Homo sapiens: one gene and its partners. The protein of the gene in region 1 purifies or fractionates together with the protein of each later gene. This does not show direct contact. Each region holds a gene or a part of one and is shown in the gene's direction. Other genes may lie near its edges.

What was found.
Region 2: the proteins of WASF1 (region 1) and FNBP1L fractionate together in Homo sapiens (co-fractionation; one large-scale study listed by BioGRID). This does not show direct contact.
Region 3: the proteins of WASF1 (region 1) and ZC3H15 fractionate together in Homo sapiens (co-fractionation; one large-scale study listed by BioGRID). This does not show direct contact.
Region 4: the proteins of WASF1 (region 1) and NHSL1 purify together in Homo sapiens (affinity purification with mass spectrometry; one large-scale study listed by BioGRID and IntAct). This does not show direct contact.
Region 5: the proteins of WASF1 (region 1) and PCDH10 purify together in Homo sapiens (pull-down; one large-scale study listed by IntAct). This does not show direct contact.

Annotation. Positions count from the first base shown.
Region 1 is NC_000006.12:110,120,487-110,124,691, reverse strand, and holds part of WASF1 (actin-binding protein WASF1), read left to right. Parts: intron 1-4,205.
Region 2 is NC_000001.11:93,450,655-93,454,859, forward strand, and holds part of FNBP1L (formin-binding protein 1-like), read left to right. Parts: intron 1-4,205. UniProt on the Homo sapiens protein: Required to coordinate membrane tubulation with reorganization of the actin cytoskeleton during endocytosis. May bind to lipids such as phosphatidylinositol 4,5-bisphosphate and phosphatidylserine and promote membrane invagination and the formation of tubules.
Region 3 is NC_000002.12:186,495,783-186,499,987, forward strand, and holds part of ZC3H15 (zinc finger CCCH domain-containing protein 15), read left to right. Parts: intron 1-4,205. UniProt on the Homo sapiens protein: Protects DRG1 from proteolytic degradation. Stimulates DRG1 GTPase activity likely by increasing the affinity for the potassium ions.
Region 4 is NC_000006.12:138,496,312-138,501,306, reverse strand, and holds the start of NHSL1 (NHS-like protein 1), read left to right. Parts: upstream 1-1,812; 5' UTR 1,813-2,016; coding exon 2,017-2,074; intron 2,075-2,562; exon of another isoform or gene 2,563-4,010; coding exon of another isoform or gene 4,011-4,017; intron 4,018-4,935; coding exon 4,936-4,995.
Region 5 is NC_000004.12:133,155,346-133,159,550, forward strand, and holds part of PCDH10 (protocadherin-10 isoform 1 precursor), read left to right. Parts: intron 1-4,205.

The DNA of each region.
Region 1 (4,205 bases):
CAAGTGATCCACCCGCCTCGGCCTCCCAAAGTGCTGGGATTACAGGTGTGAGCCACCATACCCAGCCAGTACATCTGTTTTTTGTGAGATTTTTCCTAGTAGAACATAATTCTGTTTTGTATTAGGTAATTACCACAAACCTATAATTCACTTTATATCAATTTCCTCTTTCTCATTTTATTGCTTTCTTAATGATGCAAGGTTTTTTACTCCTTAGCTGAGCTAGGTCCAGGTTCTTGTCTCACGATGAGGAAGAATTAGGCACACAGATACTCTAAGAGTGAATGGAGTAGAATTTATTAAGTGAAAGGAAAGCTCTCAGCCAAGAGAGGGGTCCTGAAAGCAGGTTCCAGGTTGCCCCGTCACAGTTGAATACAAGGGCATATATATATATATATATATATATATATATATATAGAGAGAGAGAGAGAGAGAGAGAGAGAGAGAGAGAGAGAGGAGAGAGAGGAGAGAGAGGAGAGAGAGAGAGAGAGAGAGAGAGACGCTGATGGGGCTGGGTTCCCTATTTGTATGAGGCACAGATTACTGGTGGCTTCACCACATTTCCCTAGTGCACATGCAGGCCCTTAGTCTGCTGTGGGCATGTTTAAGCAAGCCCCCTGTGCAAGTTCCCTTATCTGCACAAAGCATCTGGTGTAAGCCCTTGTGGGGTGGGTCAGAGGTTCTCTGGGGACCCTTCCCTTACTGTCTGCCTAAAGCAAGCTAGCTAACTCCTTTCATTAACAACCACTGGGATTCTGAATACCTAAGGGATCTCTTCCCCTGGCTTTTCTCTTATGGAATATAGTCAGTTCTTATTGCCAAGATTAGTCTTTTCCATCTCTGTATCTACACCTAGCATTTGTATCCCTACCAATTGTTGAATAAATGAGTAACTTTATACCTGCTTTTTCTTCCATTTGGGATGCTTCCCTTATCTGCCAGAGAAACTGTCTCTGGAAGTATCTTGATCACCAAATAACTTTTGACACCTGAAAGTGAGGTGCTTCTATCTCTGCTGTGTTGCTCTTACCTTATATTAAGAGCTGCCTGTTATTGGGCTCCTCTGTATGAGGTGCACTTCAAGGCTCTTTTCTTGCTTCTTTTAGAGACAGATGTTTTTATTCCTATTTTACAGATAAGGAAATTGATACCAAGGTCTCACAGTGAATAGAACAAATATTAGGACTTATCTATTAAATTGCTTTAAATATTTGCTTAAATGTCTGGTTCTCCCTCTGCTCAAAATTCAGTAATGGCAGGGATCTTCTTCAAGTTATTTTGGCTTACTCTTTTCAGTAATAAGAACTTACACAACTAGAGGAATACAGTGATTTTAGATTTATGATTTTTTTTTTTCAGAAGTTGTAACAAGAGGGTGTAAAAGATCTCCTAAATTTCTGAATCTATATCTTGGGCATCCCTGGGACAGATAATCTTCTAGGTCTTTGATGAATCTTGGGTTCTGCTACTTGGCCTAAAATTTATTTCTAGCTAATATAAATGCTGATTATATATAAATGCTGATTATATATAAATGCTACAGTCTACATATAAATGCTTTCAGATTGACAGGCATATTATTTGCATATACCTTTACATCATAATCTTCTCTAACCCTCATCAGGTGGACAGATATAGATAAAGCAAGTAATTTCCATTTTAGACACAAATCATTTAACAGAAAGTAGTAGAACAAGGTTTAAAAGCAGGCTTCCCAGGGTATCTCTTTTTTTTTCCCCACTTTGTCATGGCTGGGTGACTTTAGATAGGGTTTAAAGTTTAAAATACAGTTGGCCCTTGAACAGTGTAGGGGTAAGGGGCACAGATCCTCAGTGAAGCCAGAAATTTGCATATAACTTTTGACTCCCCCAAAACTTAACTGCCTATAGCCTACTATTGACCAGAAGCCTTACCGAGAACATAAACTGTTGCTTAACATGTATATTTTATGTTGTATGTGTAGTAGTATACTGTATTCCTACAATAAGGTAAGCTAGAGAAAAGAATATGTTATTAAGAAAACCATAAGAAAAAATATACTTACTGTTCATTAATTGGAAGTGGATCATCATAAAAGTCTTCATCCTCGTTATCTTCACATTGAGCAGACCAAAGAGGAGAAGGAAAAGGAGGAGTTTGTCTTGCTGTCTCAGGAGTAGCAGAGGCAGAGAGGTGGAGGAGGTAGAAGTAGTAGAGGTGGGCACACTGGTGTAACTTTACAAAAACACATCTTGATTTCTGACTTTTTTGCTTCTTCATTTCTCTAAAAATGTTTTTATATGGTACCAATCCTCCTTTTATTTGCTTTAGTTTTGGTACTGTATCATAGAAGGGTTCACGTTGTAAAATAAATCAAAAGTAGTCTTGAATAATTGGAACGCTTTTGCCAGATTCTCTAATGTCAATTTGTTTTCTGACACCACTTCTTCTATGTCTTCTTTTTTTTTTTTTTGGATTCCATTTTTTAAAATCGGAGATCTGCTTCTTTACTTTCTTTCTTATTTATTATGATACTTTAAGTTCTATGGTACATGTGCATAGTGTGCAGGTTTGTTACATAGGTATACATGTGCCATGGTGGTTTGCTGCACCCATCAACTCGTCATTTACATTAGGTATTTTTTCCTAATGCTATCCCTCCCCCAGCCCCCGACCCTCCGACAGACCCGGGTATGTGATGTTCCCCACCATGTGTCCATGTGTTCATGTTGTTCAATTCCCACCTAGGAGTGAGAACATCTGGTGTTTGGTTTTCCAACCTTGTGATAGTTTTTTTAGAATGATGGTTTCCAGCTTTATACATGTCCCTGCAAAGGACATGAACTCATCCTTTTTTATGGCTACATAGTATTCCATGGTGTATATGTACCACATTTTCTTAATCCAGTCTATCATTGATGGACATTTGGGTTGGTTCCAAGTCTTTACTATTGTAAATAGTGCCACAATAAACATACATGTGCATTTGTCTTTATAGTAGCATGATTTATAATCCTTTGGGTATGTACCCAGTAATGGGATCGCTGGATCAAATGGTATTTCTAGTTCTAGATCCTTGAGGAATTGCCACACTGTCTTCCACAATGGTTGAACTGACTTACACTCTCACCAATAGTGTAAAAGTGTTCCTATTTCTCCACATCCTCTCCAGCATCTGTTGTTTCCTGACTTTTTAATGATCACCATTCTAACTGGCATGAGATGGTATCTCCTTGTGGTTTTGATTTGCATTTCTCTGATGACCAGGGATGATGAGCATTTTTTCATATGTCTGTTGGCTGTGTAAATGTCTTCTTTTGGGAAGTGCCTGTTCATATCCTTTGTCCACTTTTTGATCGGGTTGTTTTTTTTCTTATAAATTTGTTTAAGTTCTTTGTAGATTCTGGATATTAAGCCTTTGTCAGATGGGTAGATTGCAAGGATTTTCTCCCATTCTGTAGGTTGCCTGTTCACTCTGATGGTAGTTGCTTTTGCTGTGCAGAGGCTCTTTAGTTTATTTAGATCCCATGTGTCTATTTTGGCTTTCTTGCCATTGCTTTTGGTGTTTTAGTCATGAAGTGTTTGCCCATGCCTATGTCCTGAATGGTATTGCCTAGGTTTTCTTCTAGGGTTTTTATGGTGTTAGGTCTTACATTTAAATCTTTAATCCATCTTGAGTTAATTTTTGTATACGGTGTAAAGAAGGGATCTAGTTTCAGCTTTCTTCATATGGCTAGCCAGTTTTCCCAGCACCATTTATTAAATAGGGAATCCTTTCCCCATTTCTTGTTTTTGTCAGGTTTGTCAAAGATCAGATGGTTGTAGATGTGTGGTGTTATTTCTGAGGGCTCTGTTCTGTTCCATTGGTCTATATCTCTGTTTTGGTACCAGTACCATGCTGTTTTGGTTACTGTAGCCTTGTAGTGTAGTTTGAAGTCATGTAGCGTGATGCCTCCAGCTTTGTTCTTTTGGCTTAGGATTGTCTTGGCTATGCAGGCTCTTTTTTTGTTCCATATGAACTTTAAAGTAGTTTTTTCCAATTCTGTGAAGAAAGTCATTGGTAGCTTGATGGGGATAGCATTGAATCTATAAATTACCTTGGGTAGTATGGCCATTTTCACGGTATTGATTCTTCCTATCCATGAACATGGAATGTTCTTCCATTTGTTTGTGTCCTCTTTTATTTCGTTGAGCAGTGGTTTGTAGTTCTCCTTGAAGAGGTCCTT
Region 2 (4,205 bases), on another chromosome or scaffold:
TGAGGTTGGGAAATTCTCTCGAAATTTTGGATTTAGAAACCAGTTCTCCTATTATTTCATATTTAGAATCACATTACTGTCCCAAAGAGTTAATTATTGAGAATATGTTGTTACAGAAAAATGATATGTAGCCATGCACTTAAACCTGAGTCTGTTTCTTGTAACAATCATTGGAATTTTTATTGCTATTTTAATGCTTCTTAAGTCTTATGTTAAATTTGAGAAAAAAAGGAATTCAATAGAACGGCTCTAATACTGACTTTGGGGGACTTTTGTAGTGATGTGCTGAGTGGATCGTGTCAGACTTTGGTTGCGTAGTTGTTAGGGGATATGAATTAACTTGTAATAAATTTGAGCTGTGCTTACAGGGATTTCTAGTGTTCCAAATGAGTAAATAAGTTAGTGAATATATACTACAGTCACAGTTTTGCATTGTATTCTGGGTAATACCAAGGAAAGAGATGATACTGTCTTCACTTCTTCAGGATGCGTGGTAACATCTTAGGCATTGCTTATTGTGTTCATTTCTTTATTACATAGCAAGAATGGATGGATCAGATAGCCAAATATGAATTAATAATTTCACAAAGCACAGATTTTGAAATTACTAGCTTTTTTTTAACAGATAGGGACATTAGAGATTGGAAAAGACCTATGTTTAGTAAATAAGTTTTACTTATTAAGAAATAGGTTTTTAGTTTTTGAGGACCTAGTTAAAGTTCGACAGAAAAAATCTGTGTATGGGTTGTGAATGTGTGTATAAATATGAAAAAAATATATGGCTGAGCACCTCACATTCATATGATTTACTGAAAAATTTGCTACCCAAGGAAAATGCTGGACAAGTCTGGTAGTTAGAAGATGGATTCAAATATCTGATTTAATTTATAAGTGCATATAAATCTTTTTTATGCCTTAATTTCTTGGTCGATATAATCTTTGGCCCTTAGTTTAAGAATGTGTAATTTAAAAGCCATTGTTATTTTCATCATATTATTTATATTATTATTATTTTTGAGATGGAGTCTCTTCTGTTGCCTAGCCTGGAGTGCAGTGGTGCGATCTCGGGTCACTGCAACCTCAGCCTCCCTGGTTCAAGCCATTCTCCCACCTCAGCCCCCCGAGTAGCTGGGATTTCAGGTGCACACCACCATGCCCGACTAATTTTTGTATTTTTAGTAGAAACAGGTTTTCACCACGTTGGCCAGGCTGGTCTTGAACTCCTGACATTGTGATCCGCCCGCCTCGGCCTCTCAAAGTGCTGGGTTTACAGGCGTGAGCCACCGTGCCCGGTCTTCATCATATTATTAACTAAATGCATTTGACAAAGCTTATATCTTTTTGGAAGAAACTGAAAAATGTGGGTTGAGTGATAGATTAGGTGGATAATTTATGTATTATCCTCAGTGTTAACCTTTTAATACTTTATTATCTTGGCTTCATAACACTTTATATAGCACTTAAATTTACATTGTAAGTGACTAGATTGTCCTTGAGTGTAGAAAGGCTGGATTCATCTTTGTTTTCACTGACCAAGACAATGCTTGTAGGTGATCATGCATGTTTTGCCCAATTGCATTAATAGTTGATTGCATTACCCAGAGTATTGATTACTAATTAGCAAGTGTATCTTTAGGGTTCTGAAGGCCTTTGTAGATGGTGATAGGTTAGGTGATCTGGATAACAGCTCAAGAAAGTCTAAAGCTGAAACCAAAATTATAAAGTTAAGTTTTACTACTTGGGTTAAACATTTTTGTCAAGTAAAATGGTAAAAGGATGGGGAAGAAAAGACCTACAGGTAATTTCTGGTGAATTTACTTGATTGATAGCTTGGTAATGTGACTGCCTAAATAATTGGTGAAATCTTAGGCCACATTAATAGATTTATCTGTAACAAAGGAATTGGGTCTCATAGTCTACTGGTTAGACCATATCTGTAATATATATGTATATTTTTAGAGATGGGGTCTTGCTATATTCTCAGGCCAGTCTTGAACTCTGTGCTCCACAATCGTCCTTCCTTAAGCTCTCAAGAAGCTGGGACTGTCTATAATATTGACTTTAATTTTACTTCACATTTTTTGGAGGGTGCTTGTCTAGAGGAGGTTGACAAAGAAAATTCATTATTAATGTAAACTGAATTGCTTCTCCAAAAGTAAATGAAAGGCCGTGAAACTGCTGTAGGAATTCAGTTTTGTTTTAAAAATACAATAATTTTGTGTCTATTATTTGGGAAGCACTGTTATGTTTGGTGAGATTTATGAAGGCTTATGATATTGGCCCTGCCCTGACAAAAGGTAGAGTTGCTTTGAGATGATATAACTTTACTGTAAACTCCAAAATACTTCCCTACATTGATACCACTGCCCAGAATGCCCTCTGTTGACCAATTCCTATCAACCCCATGCCTCCAGACTACCCATTCTGGATATTGTCTTATGGGACTACCACCTTATATTACGGTTATTATAGTTATTTCTTGTGTATTCAAATCTTAGGGAAATTGTCATGGTATAAATACTTAAATATCTTACATTCCCTTTTGTTGGTAGAAATTGTTGTGTTCAACATTGTATTACAGACGTTATTGCTATTAGTTAAGGAGGATGAGTGAGAGGTATCAAGATATCTGTTTATGTCACCATTCCATAATGACTATAATAAGTTGGAAGCTAGAGAGCTGCCTCTAACCAGTATCTCCTTTGCATAGCCACTCATACTCCATTTACTTCCATTTGCTTGCTTTCTTTGCCTTTTTCTTAAAATATTTGCTCTCTCTCCTTCCCCCACCCTATAAACCTATAAAATATGATTTTGGCTGGAAACTTTAAAAAAACCTATTCTACCAACTTTTTCCTCTGTCAGCTAGTTTGTAGAGAGGAAATAGTAAGAGAAATAGTAATGGCTTATAAATGTCAAATACCTTCTGTGTATATCAACAAGTGCTGTCTTATTTAATAATCTTCAATCTTTAAACATTTTCACTTCAATAGCAAAAAAAAATCTGTCTTGGGGAATATATCTATAGAATATTAAAAACTGGTAGGAAAGGTTATGTAAAGGTTTTGTTCTATAGAATGTGAAAGCCGTTCCATATTTCAGTTCAGGCCATGTCTATCTAATACACCTGAAACACGTAAACAGGACTGATGCTTGTTCATTCAACAGATGTTTATTTCATGCCTATTATGGCTTCAGCACTAAGCTAGGCTTTGTGGGGCATACTAAAAGAATCAATTAGATATCAGCATGAGCCTCAAAGCAACCCTAAAACAACTAGAAAGTAATAGATGGACTTTAGGGCTATGAAAAGTGACTTTTCATTCTAGGTATCACAGGAAAATCTTTAGGAAGACTGTCATTTGACCTAGGTTTTGGAATAAGAAGGGTTATGCAGGTGGGGGTTCCTGACAGGTTCCTAGAGGGCAGATATTGTGTCTTACTCATTGCTTATTCATTGTCTGATTCATTGCTGTATCCTGCCTGGATTAGCCTGACATTAGTAGGGTCTTTAATAAATGTTTGTTGGACTGACCTGAGTCTAGTGTTGCGTTTGACTTGAATTTGAGTGCACAATGTCTGAAAGTAGTGATGAAGGGTAGACTGGAACCAGGCAGGCAAAGAGGTTGGTCTGGCTGATTGCTTGATTCATGAACCTCTTGTGTGTGTGTATGGGTGTGTCTGTGTGTGTGTGTGTGTGTGTAGTTACACATTTGTATATAATCAAACCACTTTTCAGACCATTTAAAAATTCACAGAAGAAAATCTTAGTTTATTGGTAGAAGGGATTACCTCTTGCTTCTGAATACTTTGGTGGCAGGAGGGGAATACCTCTGGGTTTTAGAAGATGAAAGTGTATTTATTTTAGCGCCGCTGCAAGAATATTTGAAGGATGTTATTTCCTTTAATAATATGTTACTAATTTGAAATTAGTTTTATTTTTAAATATATATTATTACTACAGCTCGTTTATATTGTTTTTTATTTTCCCTTTATCTGTGACTGTATACTGTAGGCCCTCCATATCATTTGATTTCCACGTCTGTGGATTCAACCAACCATGGACTGGAAATACTAATTAAAACAATCATACAACAATAAAAATAATACAGATCTAAAAACAATACAGCATAACAACTATTTACACATATCATTTACATTGTATTAGGTATAAGCAGTCTAGAGATGACTTAAAATATATGGGA
Region 3 (4,205 bases), on another chromosome or scaffold:
TACTTCACATTTTCATTTGTAGTACATGAGCAATAGATACTAAAGTTCTTTTTAATGTGTTACAATCTGATAAGTATAAAGTGATATCTTATTGTTACATTGTTTCCCTCGCTACTGGAGAGTATCTTTTGTATACTTGTTAGCTGTTTGGGTTTGCACTTCTATGACTTCCCTATTGAAATTATTTGCTTTATTGGTTGTCTTTTTCTTGTCAATTTATGAGATACCTTTTGTCTGCATTGCAGATAATTGGTGATATTTCAGTTATGTTTTGCCATGCACCAATTTTTAACTTACATGTATATATAGAGTTTAATATTGCTAGATATGTTGCTAGCTTTTTAAAAATATGGTTATAAGGTCTCCCCTGCCACTGGATTCTGCATGTTTTTCCTAGATCATTTGTAATTATTTTATTTTTATAGTCTATGTCATATGAATTTATTTTATATATCTTAAAGTTCTCACTCTGTTGCCCAGGCAGGAATACAATGGTGTGATCTTGGCTCACTGCGGCCTCTGCCTCCTGGGTTCAAGCCATCCACCTGCCTCATCCTCCTAAGTAGCTGGGACTACAGGCGCATGACACCACACCTAGCTAATTTTTGTATTTTTTGTAGAGACGGGATTTCGCCGTGTCACCCAGGGTGGCCTCACAATCCGCCTGCCTTGGCCTCCCAAAGTGCTAGGATTACACACGTGAGCCACCATGCCCAGACTAAGTTTGTTTTCTTTTAAATGAATAGCTGCTTACACCAGCATCATTTATCCAACTGAAATACCACTATTATCCTACAGTCATAGTCATACATTGTTTAGTGATGTGGATACAATCTGAGAAATGTGTCGTTAGGCGATTTAGTCATTGTGCAAATATCATAGAGTGTACTTACACAAACCTAGATATTACAGCCTACTACACACCTAGGCTATATGGTATAGCCTATTGATCCAAGGCTTCTAACTTATACAGCATGTTACTGTACTGAATACTGTAGGCAGTTGTAACACATTAGTAATGATTTGTGTCTGAACATAGAAAAGATAGAGTAAAAATATGGTATTATAACCTTACAGGATTACTGTCATATGTGGTCCCTCATTGACCTAAATGTCATTAATTCTGTGCTTGACTGTACATTAAAGTCTCAAGGCAAGTCTTTTCCCCAAAATGGTATACCTTTTCTATTTTTCCTGGTTGTTCTTAGGCATTTATTCTTTCATACGAATTTTAAAATGAGTTTATCCATTGGCAACTCATTTGAAAAAAATGTAGCCCCTTTTTTTTTCAGGTTCTTTAGACCTCTCACTTGTAAAGATTTCATAGACATGGATCTTTATTTTTAAAGTACATTTTTCCACCATTTTTATCTCCTTTTCATTAACTTCTGGAAACACATTTTTGTAATGTAGGAGAGAAGAAAGAATTTCTCATGTGTTTACAGATTTTTTAAAAATCTGCTAATATGTATTTGTGAGATAAGTAAATTTCTCTTGCTCATGCTGTCTGCAAATCAGTGACCCAACACTTTCCTTTCACATCCATTTTCCCAGCTTGATTCTAGAATCTAAAACTATTGCTCTTCCAAACTGCTAACTTAATAGCCCGGTTTAATAAAAATTAATGTTTAGAGCTCACGCCTGTAATCCCAGCACTTTGGGAGGCCGGGGCGGGCAGATCAGCTGAGACCTTGCAGTGAGATAGACTTGGGTGTGAATCTTCCTATCTTTTTTGTTACATGATCCTTAAATAGCAACCCTGGTCTTTATCTGTACTGTGGAAGTGCAGTTATTCTTTGTTGGATTCTTCTGGTGGTTAAATAAGAAAATAATGTAAATTTTCTGGTGAATATAGATATCAATATGTAAGAAGAACTCACTTTCTTCACTTAGCCCCTTTTTCAATCCTGCTTTCTCTTCCCCAACTTTTTCTTCTAGTGGAAAGTGTTTTGAGTGGTGATATCAGAATTCATAAACCTGGGAAAGTTATGAAATGTGTGTGCTGGTAGTTAGCTTTGATAGTATATTTAATACTATATTTTTGATACTTGCGTGGATAACTGGACTTATCTGTGAACATGGGGTACCTACCCATCATATATAACATCGGAAATGAGCAGTAGTGCTGCTCTTAGAGCTGGACAGGGGGTATCCTGGTCTAGGCCCTGCGATACATGTGTCTTCTCCAGACTGCTGTCTCCCCTCAGGTAAGGAGTCACTGAAGCCAAGGGGATGTACCCACCCAGATTTTGCAACATCTCTTCCTACAACATTCTGACCCTGGTTTATCTGCCTACAAAGGCCTCTCCACCATGCCCATCTCTGTCCATTGTGCTACCAATATGTCTGAGGTAGCCAAGAGAACAGTGTACGCTAAGGGTTTGAACAGAGCCTGCATCCATACCCTTTCCTTCCTTCTTGCACCTTTACCTCCCCCTACACCCAAAATGGAATGAAACGGGGTGGGAAGAGGAGAAAAAAGAGCCCAGGGCTAACTCTTGTGTTGCTGCCATGCTTCAGTGTGGAACTCCATGGAGTCTGAGCATTTTAAATTTGAACCTGTCCTTCCAGGTCATAAGGTATATTTGTCGAGTAGGGTTACAGACCATATTTTATTCATCATGAACTTGATTTCTAATTTTAAATATTTAGATAAATGGCTTGTAGACCTCCATTGTATTCTTGCTCAAACATTGCCCCACAAATGTTTGAGATGGGCCTGATGAGCAAAGGATACTTCTATTAAAAATTAAGCGACTTAAATTTTTTCTTTCAAAACATTTTTTGTGTTTAAACACATCCACCATATAGAGTCATATTCAGGATTTGGGATGTCTTTGACCTAATTATAGCATTTGGCCATTCCTTTCCTAAAATTTCCTCTTTCTTGAACACATTTTGTCCTGGTTTTCTACCTGCTTCTTTGATGTTTCTAGGTCTTTTTATTGGACTTTTTAGGTTCTTTTGTCCCATTTTATGTTGATTTTCTTCAAGGAAGTGTCCTTTACTCTTGCCACTTTTTTATGCTCTCCTTAAGTACCATATACCCAAAGTTTTAATTGTTACCTGTAAGCTGCTATTTCTAAAGTCTTTATCTCAAAGCAGACCCTCTCTGATTTCAGTGGAATCAATATGCATGTCTATCTGCCTTCAAAAGAGCTCTACCCAGATGCTTTGTAAGCATCTTGCACTCTGTATGTCTAAAACTAAGCTCATCTTCACCTCTTACCCTGAAACCTGTTCCTCCTGTATTCCCTGTCTTGTTTAACGGCACTAACCATATACATGATAATCCTAGATTCCTCCCCCTTTATACTTCATGTTCAGTCAGTCCTATCAGCTCTGTCTCCTTTTCTCCATCCTTACCAGTAATGCTCATTTTAAGCTCTTGTGTTTTATTGTGTACAGCAGTTGCAGCAGCCTCTTGCCTTTATTCTTGGATTCCCAATCCATCCTCTACAAAACTTGCCCTCTTGATATTTTATAAAATGTGACCTGACCTTGTTATTGGGTTACTTTAAACAGTTGAGAGAACTCTGTTCAAGCTACTGATGCAATCTAAGCATCTTACTGATGTTTCTCATACTTTATTCCTCTAGTCCCTGTAACTTTGCATTGGCTGGCTCTTTCTGTATTTCTTTTCTTGCCCATCAAGAAAAACTCATCCATAAGGTTATTGGCTCAATTTAGTTTTCTCAGGTATATGGGCATTCTTTGTTCCCAGAGCACTATGTACTATGTTACAGTTGTTGACATGTCTGTCATCCTGCTAGATTCTGAGCTTCTTTAAATAAGCATCTTTGTCTTTTCATTGTATTCTCTGTCATCTAACATAGGACCTGACGTATAAATGTTTGGATGAATCCTCTAATCATATTAGGTATGTAAATCGTGTGCCTGGAACTATGTTATATGTCATGTTTTGTTTTGAATTGTTTTGTTTAATATCCTACATTGACCTAACCCAGTGTTTTTCCATGAGGGCACTATATAGGTTTTTGGGGTGGTATAATTCATTATCATGTGGGACTGTACATTTCAGGATGTTTGCTTGTCTCATCTTCAAAATGAACCTGTACGTTTCTGGGGAGTGGGTTGTTTTCACAGAAGAATATTGCAGGTGAAAACTATTTGCTAAAAATGCTGAGCATGTAGTAAGTGCTTAATAAATGCTTGTTGCTGTAAGCTTTTGCTTTTAACTAGGC
Region 4 (4,995 bases), about 28 Mb from region 1:
CAATGATGTATCCCAATGAAATGAAAGAGTAGCAGTTAGCATCGGTGCCTGGTATTTATCTTTCTGATGAACGAATCTATATTCAGATGCCATTGTTGAGCACATGGAAAGCTACATGCTATGGAGGGTTGAGCATAATCAGAGTTTCTTGAAAGAACAATTTCTGTTTTCACTGGACATTTGCATGGTGACACTTAACCTCAAACACTTGTGGATTGTGCATATGAGTGTTTTTGCCCACAACTCTCCTTGTGTCTAATGCAATGAGCAGAGCGAGGTCACTCTTGCAGATAAATTTGTTTTCCAAAGGGGAACTTTGCCCGCTAATTTAAGGCAGCCACATAATCTGACTTACAGGCTCAGTCGTTTCTCATTTGCCATCTGGCAATTTAATTACTTTAAAATAAAGCTATATATAAAATGAAATAACACAAATTGGAAATCTGTGATAATATGTATGATAAGATGGTAACGTTTCTATGTGTTCTTTTGTTTTGTTGTTGTTGAAAAAATAAAGGGCATAAAAAGACCTGAGAAGGAATCATTTCAAAGCTTTCCCCTATGTGTTCTTTTGTTTTGTTGTTGTTGAAAAAATAAAGGGCATAAAAAGACCTGAGAAGGAATCATTTCAAAGCTTTCCCTAGACAGAGCCCCTTATATAAATTTTATTCTTTGACTAAGAGCCTTTGTTATAAACTAAATGTTTTGAATTAGTGGATTATTACATTTTTCCATTGAGTTATAAGTCTGGCCCAAAGCTATGAAATAAGAGGTTGTCTAAATTGTTTCAAAAGTGTTTGGCCATGAAGTGGAACTGGGCTGAGATGTGAGGAAGATTCTTTTCCTTTTTCCGTTGTCATAGTATTTCCGGATCTATATTCTCCTCTTTTTTCCTATCCCTTTACCCCTGGAATATGTTTTTTCAGTGCCTTCTTATACTCTGTTTCTGATTTCTCTGTCTCTACTTGTGCTTCCCTAGTTCTCTGTGGTTAATTGCCAATGGGCAAAAGAACCAGCACTCTGGATGGTAGATTCAAGTTAAAGAGTAACTCAGATAATGTTTGTTTGAGACAACATTGAGGGAAGGGCGATTATGGAATTCTGAAAACCAGGAGCCTAAGTGACAATTACATATAAAATAAAGATTAAAATGATTAGGGTACTTTATCTAATTTATCATTTGGAGTGGGGAAGTTGTATTTTTTTTGGTGGATTTTTTTTTTTCTTGATTGTTGTGGCAGCTAGATGCAAATAAGATCATGCTTTGGAACACACAATGCTGATTCTCAATCACTGGCAAAGAAGGGTGAGAAGACAGAGCATCCTAATTTGCACAAAAATGCAACCAAGTCATCATTTGCAGCTCCTTGGAGATTCTATTCTAAAGTTTTACTGCTTGTACAAGTTCCTTTGGTATCGGAGGCAGAGCCTGGGGCGTGGTTGGGAAACAATAGTTTGGTTTTTTTCCCCCCTAAATCAGTTCAAATCCCATATACCCTGAATTAACTGGAATTGCTGTCAGACTTGGCAGCTCCTGTAAAAGATCTGGGTGTTCATAGGGGCCTAATGAAATGGGGAACACATTTGTTTCATCTTGACTTCCGTAGAGGAAAGTCTGCACTATTTTTGTGGGCTCAGAGAGGAGGAACTTCTGATCTGTTGGAGAGAAAACTGAATGAATGGGCACTGAGGCAGAAAGCCTGATGTGGCTGTCATGCAAATAAGAACCGTGATTGGCTTTCTCTTTCTTTCAGCGCACGATGTCACTGGCTGCTCTCAGCCTTAAAGATTAGGTTTCAGTAGGAGTTTTTCAGGTTCAAGGACTGTTAATGGTTTGTAACTGCCTGACAATAAACTCAACCTCAGTTACATCAGCCTGGGCAGATGTCTAAGGATATGAGACCGGGGGAAGAAAAAGTTAGAATCTGTAGCAGAAGGACGAAGCTTGCCACCTGCCTACTGGGCTGAGCTTTTAATGTGATTTACATTTCTAAGCTCTATGTAGGTGCCCTGGAAATGGTGGTCTTCATTAATGCAAAGATTAAGTCTTTAATTAAACTTTTTAAGAAGAAAAGTAAGTAGTTCCTTTTCTCTCTACTACCTATTGTGTGCATATGTTTCCATATGTGTATATGTCCCTGTGTGTCTGTGTGTGTGTGTGTGTGTGTGTGTCCATGTGTGTGTTTTAGGTCCTTCGTTCTTTTGTGTGAAGAAATTAGAGTGTGAAACAGCGTAATAGGCATGAGTTAAACTCTACTCTATACCAGGTTGTTTAAATACCTCAGACTTTTGTAACTCTAGGACAGTATTATGTGATCTTAGCATGTCTTATTTATTTATGATTGGGGTTTTAAGTGAATTCACTTCTTCTGTGCTTTTCAAAAGAAGTCCTTTGAAGAGGGGGGAAATTCTTGTACTTAATTTATGTTTCCCTTGATATCAAGTGTATGATTTTTTGATTCTTTGGATAAATATGCAGCTGAGGTAAGGGAGCCTCTGTGTAATGTATCACATATTTCTGGTGGAGATAATCCCCTGAAACTCCCTGGCACTCTTTGTTGTGTATTTAAGAGCTCGAGCACAAACTGTCTAGACTGATCAGTGATTGTTGTAAGGTACAGAACTTTTGTGATGTGGCTTTATTGTGTACTTACCATTGACTTACATTTCTTTAATGTAGGTGCTTCTTCATTCTCTTGAAAATAATAATTTTTATAACTACTTGGCTTTGTTTTTACATAGTCGGTGGTTTATTTTATTTTAGTTTAGTTTAGTGTTTGGACCAGTGACTTATACTGGATAAATGAACATGGGTAGGGGCATTGGTAAGAGGAGCTTTGGAGAAAGCTACAAAGAGCAGCACGGTGGGCTGATTTTCTGCAGCTCCTTGCTAAAGGCTGCCTTTGGATGAACAGATTAAAAGTGGCCCTGGCGAGAGTGAGGAACACGAGGGGAAGAGACTTTTTCATAGGAGCCAGTTGGTAGCTGTGCAGTGGGGCCGATGGTGCGATTGATGGTGCAGACACGAATGCCATTACTTGGATTTGATTTGAAATTGTCGAATAGGAAAAGTTTCCATTTTCAATAGTTTCTAACTCTGAAGTATGGTAACTCAGTCTTTAAAATAAATGGACATCAGCACAAAACACTGTGATGAACTCTGGCTACACTTTGGGGGGACATATGGTGAGTTTGGCCCAATGCTAGATTCTTCTGAAACACAAATGAGGGTTAAGTCAGGTCTTTGTGGATTTTGTGTATTAAGATTGATAGTTGTATGCACCATGCAAAACATTTGCTCAACAAGAGTTTACATGAAATACTAGGTGCCAAATTCACATACTGCTTTTGTCAAATACTAAGCAGAAAGCACAATGGACATTTCTGTTTTTAACTTGATATCTAGTTCTCAATGTTTATTTTCTCATTTAGCAACTTACGGAGAAGGTGGGGTCCTTTTGAAAATGAGTTATCCTGTTCAGATTCATAAGATTGTAAAATTTAGTAGCTGCAGAAAAGATGGTATGTGAGATGAGCGCTAGCATGTGGCCCAGGTTTACAAGAGACAGTGACAGTTCAAAGTTTGGGGCCTCGTTAGAATAATTTTTACTGTTCCTGCCACAACCATGTTTTACCTGAGTTATTTCTTGAGCTAAGTACTTTATGTATATTGGTTCATTTGATCTTTAGAGTAGCCCTAATAACTGTGCTATAGAGTATGTTTAGTGAATTTTAGATGTGCTCAAATGGATTTAATAGTTTATGCGTGTGTTCTCATGTTACTTTGAGAATTCATTTTATGGTCTAGTTTCCAGGTACATGTTATGTTGGGGACATGGATACGCCCAGTGTGAACTCTATAGCATAGATCAGAGTCAGGAAGACTTGCTCCTCACTCACAATTCAAGTATCTGCTGGCTTTACAGGGGTTAGACTTGCTACCTCAAGCAAATGCCTCAGCACAAGGACTTTCTCCAGTACCTTTCCAGTCTCTCTTATGCCTGGGTTACATGGCAGGTATATAGAAAGTATTAAAACATTGTTGATGAATTTGTTTTGGTGCTGTCGGCCTCATTTTGGGCTCCACTGATGCCCCAACTTAGCTCGTGTTGTCAGGAAAAATGAACTAGAGAGGTCTCAAGCCTCCGAGGATTTAAAGAAAAATTATTGTAGAGATTTATCTTACTCTCAGGATTTTACCTGTTATTTTGTCCTCTAATGTCTTGGTCTCTTCTGTGCTGGGAAAATTTAGTTGAACTGGATTGTGTTGGGAAGAGTCAATTGCATTGTAATTTTAAAAATGTTTAATATAAAAGGGTTTCATGAAAGCAAGAAATGCAGAGAGAATTTTGTAACACAAATGGGTCTCCACATGTATTAGCTATGTCATTTACATGTAAATTGAATGTTTACGCTTAATTTTTTAAAAATGTAATTGAGTTTATAACAGTGATGCTCTTTAAATAATGCTGTAGAGGGAGAATATTTGTTATAAACCTCCTGGTAGGAAATTCATTTCTATCAGGACAGTCTAACATTTACTGTTGCGATGGCATTATACAGTTGAGTAACTGCTATTTGTTGTGTGTGTGCGAGGGGGGTTAAGTAGGAATTGGAGGTCTCTATCAATTCTGTCAGATGTTTTCAAACATTGGAGTAAAGGGAGGACCTAAAATGCTGGGAAGCAGTTAACTGAGCAAATGATTCTATGAAAACATTGTTTGGAGGGTGGACACTTTCAGCTTTTCTTTTATAAGTAAAACACTGTGGGCGAGACCCCTGGAATCTAAGATTAAAACTAATTTAGGATTTGCTCCATTGCTCCCTTGCTGGCCCTTACCCGTGGATGTGTTAGACATGGAAACACATCATGATGTAATGAACTCGTAGCCAATGAAGTTGACACCTGAATGTATTCTATCTTTTTTTCTATAGCGGTTTCCAACCTAGATGAGGAAAGCCGATGGACAGTCCACTACACTGCCCCGTGGCACC
Region 5 (4,205 bases), on another chromosome or scaffold:
CAGTCAATTAAGGTATTCTTAAACTTGTTTATGGATGAGATAACTGAAGATAAATAAAATTGATTGACCTGCACAAGGTCACAAGAAGATAAATGGATGATTGAAGACTAGAATCCACATTTCTTGTTTTCCAGGGCAATGCATTTTACACACCACCAAGTATTGAATGAGAAAAGTAATGGTGATTAAAAGTCATTAATGGATTGAAAACAGAGTTTCTAATCTTGAGTCTTAGGCTTCAGAACGTTAGGTAATATGTGATAATGTGTATTTTTTGAAGTGTCCTTGGTTTCTTCATATTTTCAACAGGGTCCATGACACATCAAAAGGTGAACTCTGAGTATATTTGTTTGTGGGCTTGATGGTAGTCACTGATAGGTTTCAATGTGCTATATATTCATTTTATTTCACTTTTCTTTTTAGAAAGTCAAGTTTTATGAGATCCTGGTAACTCTTATTACTAATACTAAAAGGAAACTCTTACATGAAATAAAATATGTATGTTAAAATGAAAATGATTTAATAAACTTCTGGTGTCCTTCCTAATTTTTTGGTTTTCATCTTTGAAGGGTGTTTGTTGAATATTTTACTTTTTCTATCTAGTTTTGTGTTTATTTGACACATGAAGAAATAGAAAGGCTAGTCAACTTTTCTAACTCCTGAAAATGTCGATCTTAGACTGTCTTTGGGTTCAACTCTCTTGAGACTGGACCTTTATTTTACTTAATAATATAACCATAGAGTGATAGGTTCTCATTTTCAAGGTGATATTAGTCCTCGAGAGCACCCATTCCTTAACACACTTGTGGACCTCTGGATGGTGCTGAGGCAGTGTGTCAAAGGGCAGCGTACACCCCATGGTGGCCTGGCAGCAGTGGTTGCTACAAGCCTCTCACTTGGCTAATGTGTGCTGTGTCTGTGGCTGCCTTAGCCTTGGGAAACCCAGGCAGGAGGAAGGGAAAAAAGGCTGCTCAAGGGTCTCTTTATATTGCTGTGAGTCATTAATATGCAGGCCTAATGAGACTTGAGAACTGCCAAGAATCCCCGGAGGTCTCTGCCCCTTGCGGGCCTTCACGCTAAGTGAACAGAGCATCTATTTAGTGTCTGGGAACCTGACAACAAACCAGATCTTGCCAGAAGTTTATATGTGCGTACAAAGTCCCTTTCATTTTTGCCCTATATATGGCATATGATTTATTGTTATCTTTAAAAACTGTACATTTAGCATTGCTCATTCCTGTTCTTTTTCAGAGTTTCTAATTTAACTGTCAACCTTTTAAAACTTTTAAAACAAAATGTTTAATGTTTTAAAGAGTATCTGTTGCATGTTTCTTTGGATGCATTTTACTCCTTTCCCACCCCACACGCCCCGCTTTGTTTTTCCTGTAGCACTTCAATCTCAATGAACATTTCAATTAGTTTAGTCCCTCAGACATAATGACCCATAATAACCTAACTGAAGAAAGAGAAATGAATAAACATCTGCAAAAGAGCCAAATTTGGAAGATAGATGAGAACATATTCTTATCAGTGCATCTTCCCAGTAGCTACTTTATTTCACAGTCACTCAGTGTTACCATTTCTGTAATGTTTCTTTCAAATTATTGGAGATGTCAAAGCATTTAAAAGAATACTAAAATGTTAAAATGTGTTGTGGAAAACATTTCAGCCAGGCAGTTTTTGTTTTTATCAAAATGTTAAAATTTTTTTGTATCTTTAAGTTCTTAAACATGTAAAAGTGTTACAGAATTAACAATCCTTTTATGTATCTTATTAGTAGTTACACGGCAGCCACAACATACTGGGCACAATAATAGCTATTTTAGGATTGTAATAAAGCACTTATGTTAAGAAGTGATTGCACCTTTGTGTGCTGAATTGCAATCAGATTTAATGTCTAATTTTATTGTAAGAATAATTTTGAAGTGTTTTCTTTTTTAAGTATAAAACCTCAAATGCAGAGAATTAAAATGCATTTGCTTAAAGACTTTTTTCAATCCATACTGCTGTTATGTACTATAAACCTCACATCAGGCAGCTAGACTATTTCCAAAAATTTAAGCCCATTTCAGATAAATCTGTTTTATTTCATTGTAAAGCCAGATATTAATGATTTTCCAATTTTGCAAAATTAGGTAATATTACTCATAGCATAGCTTTCTAAGTTCAGGATAGGAAAAAAACCTTGTGTTATAATAAGCAAATCTCACTTAACTAGGTTTTAGTAGGGAAAAGTTAGATTATCAAGCAAAACTAACATTGGAAAGATAGAGACTCCGAATTCTCTCTTTCAGTTTGTACCATATTCCACACTATAGTGTACAGACTATTTAGCTTAGTGCTTCACCTGTTTAAACTTCCTTTTTCTTTATTCCTATTTCTTTTTCTACATTAACATTATTCTGTATTATTTATTTAGATATGCCTTCTATTTATTCTTTTATGAATAGTTTTCTTTTTTTGTTCTATCTTCCACCCCCTCCTTCTTGCTTTTCTTTTTTCTAAGCCATTTGCCGTCACCAATGTTGTTCATAGAAGGGCTTTAAACACGAAGGCAGCTGCACAGAGAATCACATAAGCTTTTTCAGTTTTCCACTGCACCTGGCTCCATGTGTGAAATTCTTCGCCTTGACCACTGCTCTGTGGCACTTTCTTTCTATAGCCTTGTCAAGGTGCTTCCCGTTTTTTTCAGTGAACTATTGATGTATTGGTTAGATATGGCAGTAGTCCAAGGAGAAGTGGCAAATGCAGACATAAACCATCACAAGAGGAAAAACTGATTAATCACAGCTTAAACAGCCAAAGAATTGGACTTTAAAGAAATATATTTTCAACTTTATTATATCATTAAAGCATAATTATTTCTTCTATTTTAGGATACAGATAGAATATTTTAAATTGTATATTCTTAAACATTTTAATATTATTTGAGGTATATCTAAAGTGATCTGTTTAGTAGTGAGAGGTTGCTTTTCCCGTTATAAAATACCTACATTGTCAATAATGCTAAGCTTAATTATAGATTTATTTTTAATACCTTGTGCCTTTAAAAAAATATGTTGAAGAGATAATCCTAATAAGTGATTGAATTACTTGTTAGACATTCTCTGAAAATTGTCAAATTTCTCTTCAATAATTTTTTCTTTCAGTTATAGGAGAACTTATCTTCCAAATATGTTTAGTTTCTAACTAATTATAGATATAATGCATGGTCAAAATTTGGCTATGAATTTTAAAAATAAAGTGATTTGATTGGTCAATAATTTCAAATTAGTAGATAAAATATACCATTGAAATGCATTAAGCCAGTGCATTACTACAGTGTCAGCAATAGAATTCTTGGTTTATTATAAACACAAATACCTATTTCCAAACTCCATTAAGAATTTAGATAATTGCCAAGTTTGATTTTGGGTTTATATATAAAATGGATTTACACCAGTATTTATAAAACCTTATTCACTGGTGAAACTTTGAGCTGCAACTTGAAAATGTGCAGAGATTTATAACTGGAGGCAATATAGAAGATGAAATATTGAGAGGAAATGGTGAAAAATATATACATTTTGAAAGATTATTGGTAGGGAGAAAATTTTGATGGGCATATTTTGATTTTTTTCATGAGTGAGTTATGTTAATAACTATCTGCTTCAAAACCATGTTTTTCTAAAACATACTGCAATTTTTGTGGTTACAATTAATGTATTTTAAGTCGTTAAAAGAGGACTAGAAATCTCAAAAAATGAAAAGTTTTATATCTTCTTTAAAATTAATTTATCATATTTGGAAAAAAATAAACGCTTTGAATGAAAGCTTGTTGCACAAAAAGAAATGTTCACGCAATATTGTATTATGACAGTCACCGAAAAAGTAGCACAAATTGAATTCTAAAATTTTTGAAATCACAATTTGGTCTCAATGGAAATATCCACTGCCTGTGAGTGTACAGGACAAGTTACTTGCCAGTTGAAAACCATGTACTTTAAAATTTGTCTAAATATATCTTTGCATAACAGGCAGTCTATCACATCAGCTATCATCCCTTGCAGAACAGATTATTTCTGAAAAGTGGAAAAAATAAATAACTAGAAAAAGAGATTGCAAGTAAAAGGTATATGTTGAAACATTTATTAGATATTACCAAAATTTCAAAACTGAGGTTTGGAATAATAGACATTGGAGACTCTGAAAGGTGGGAAGACTGA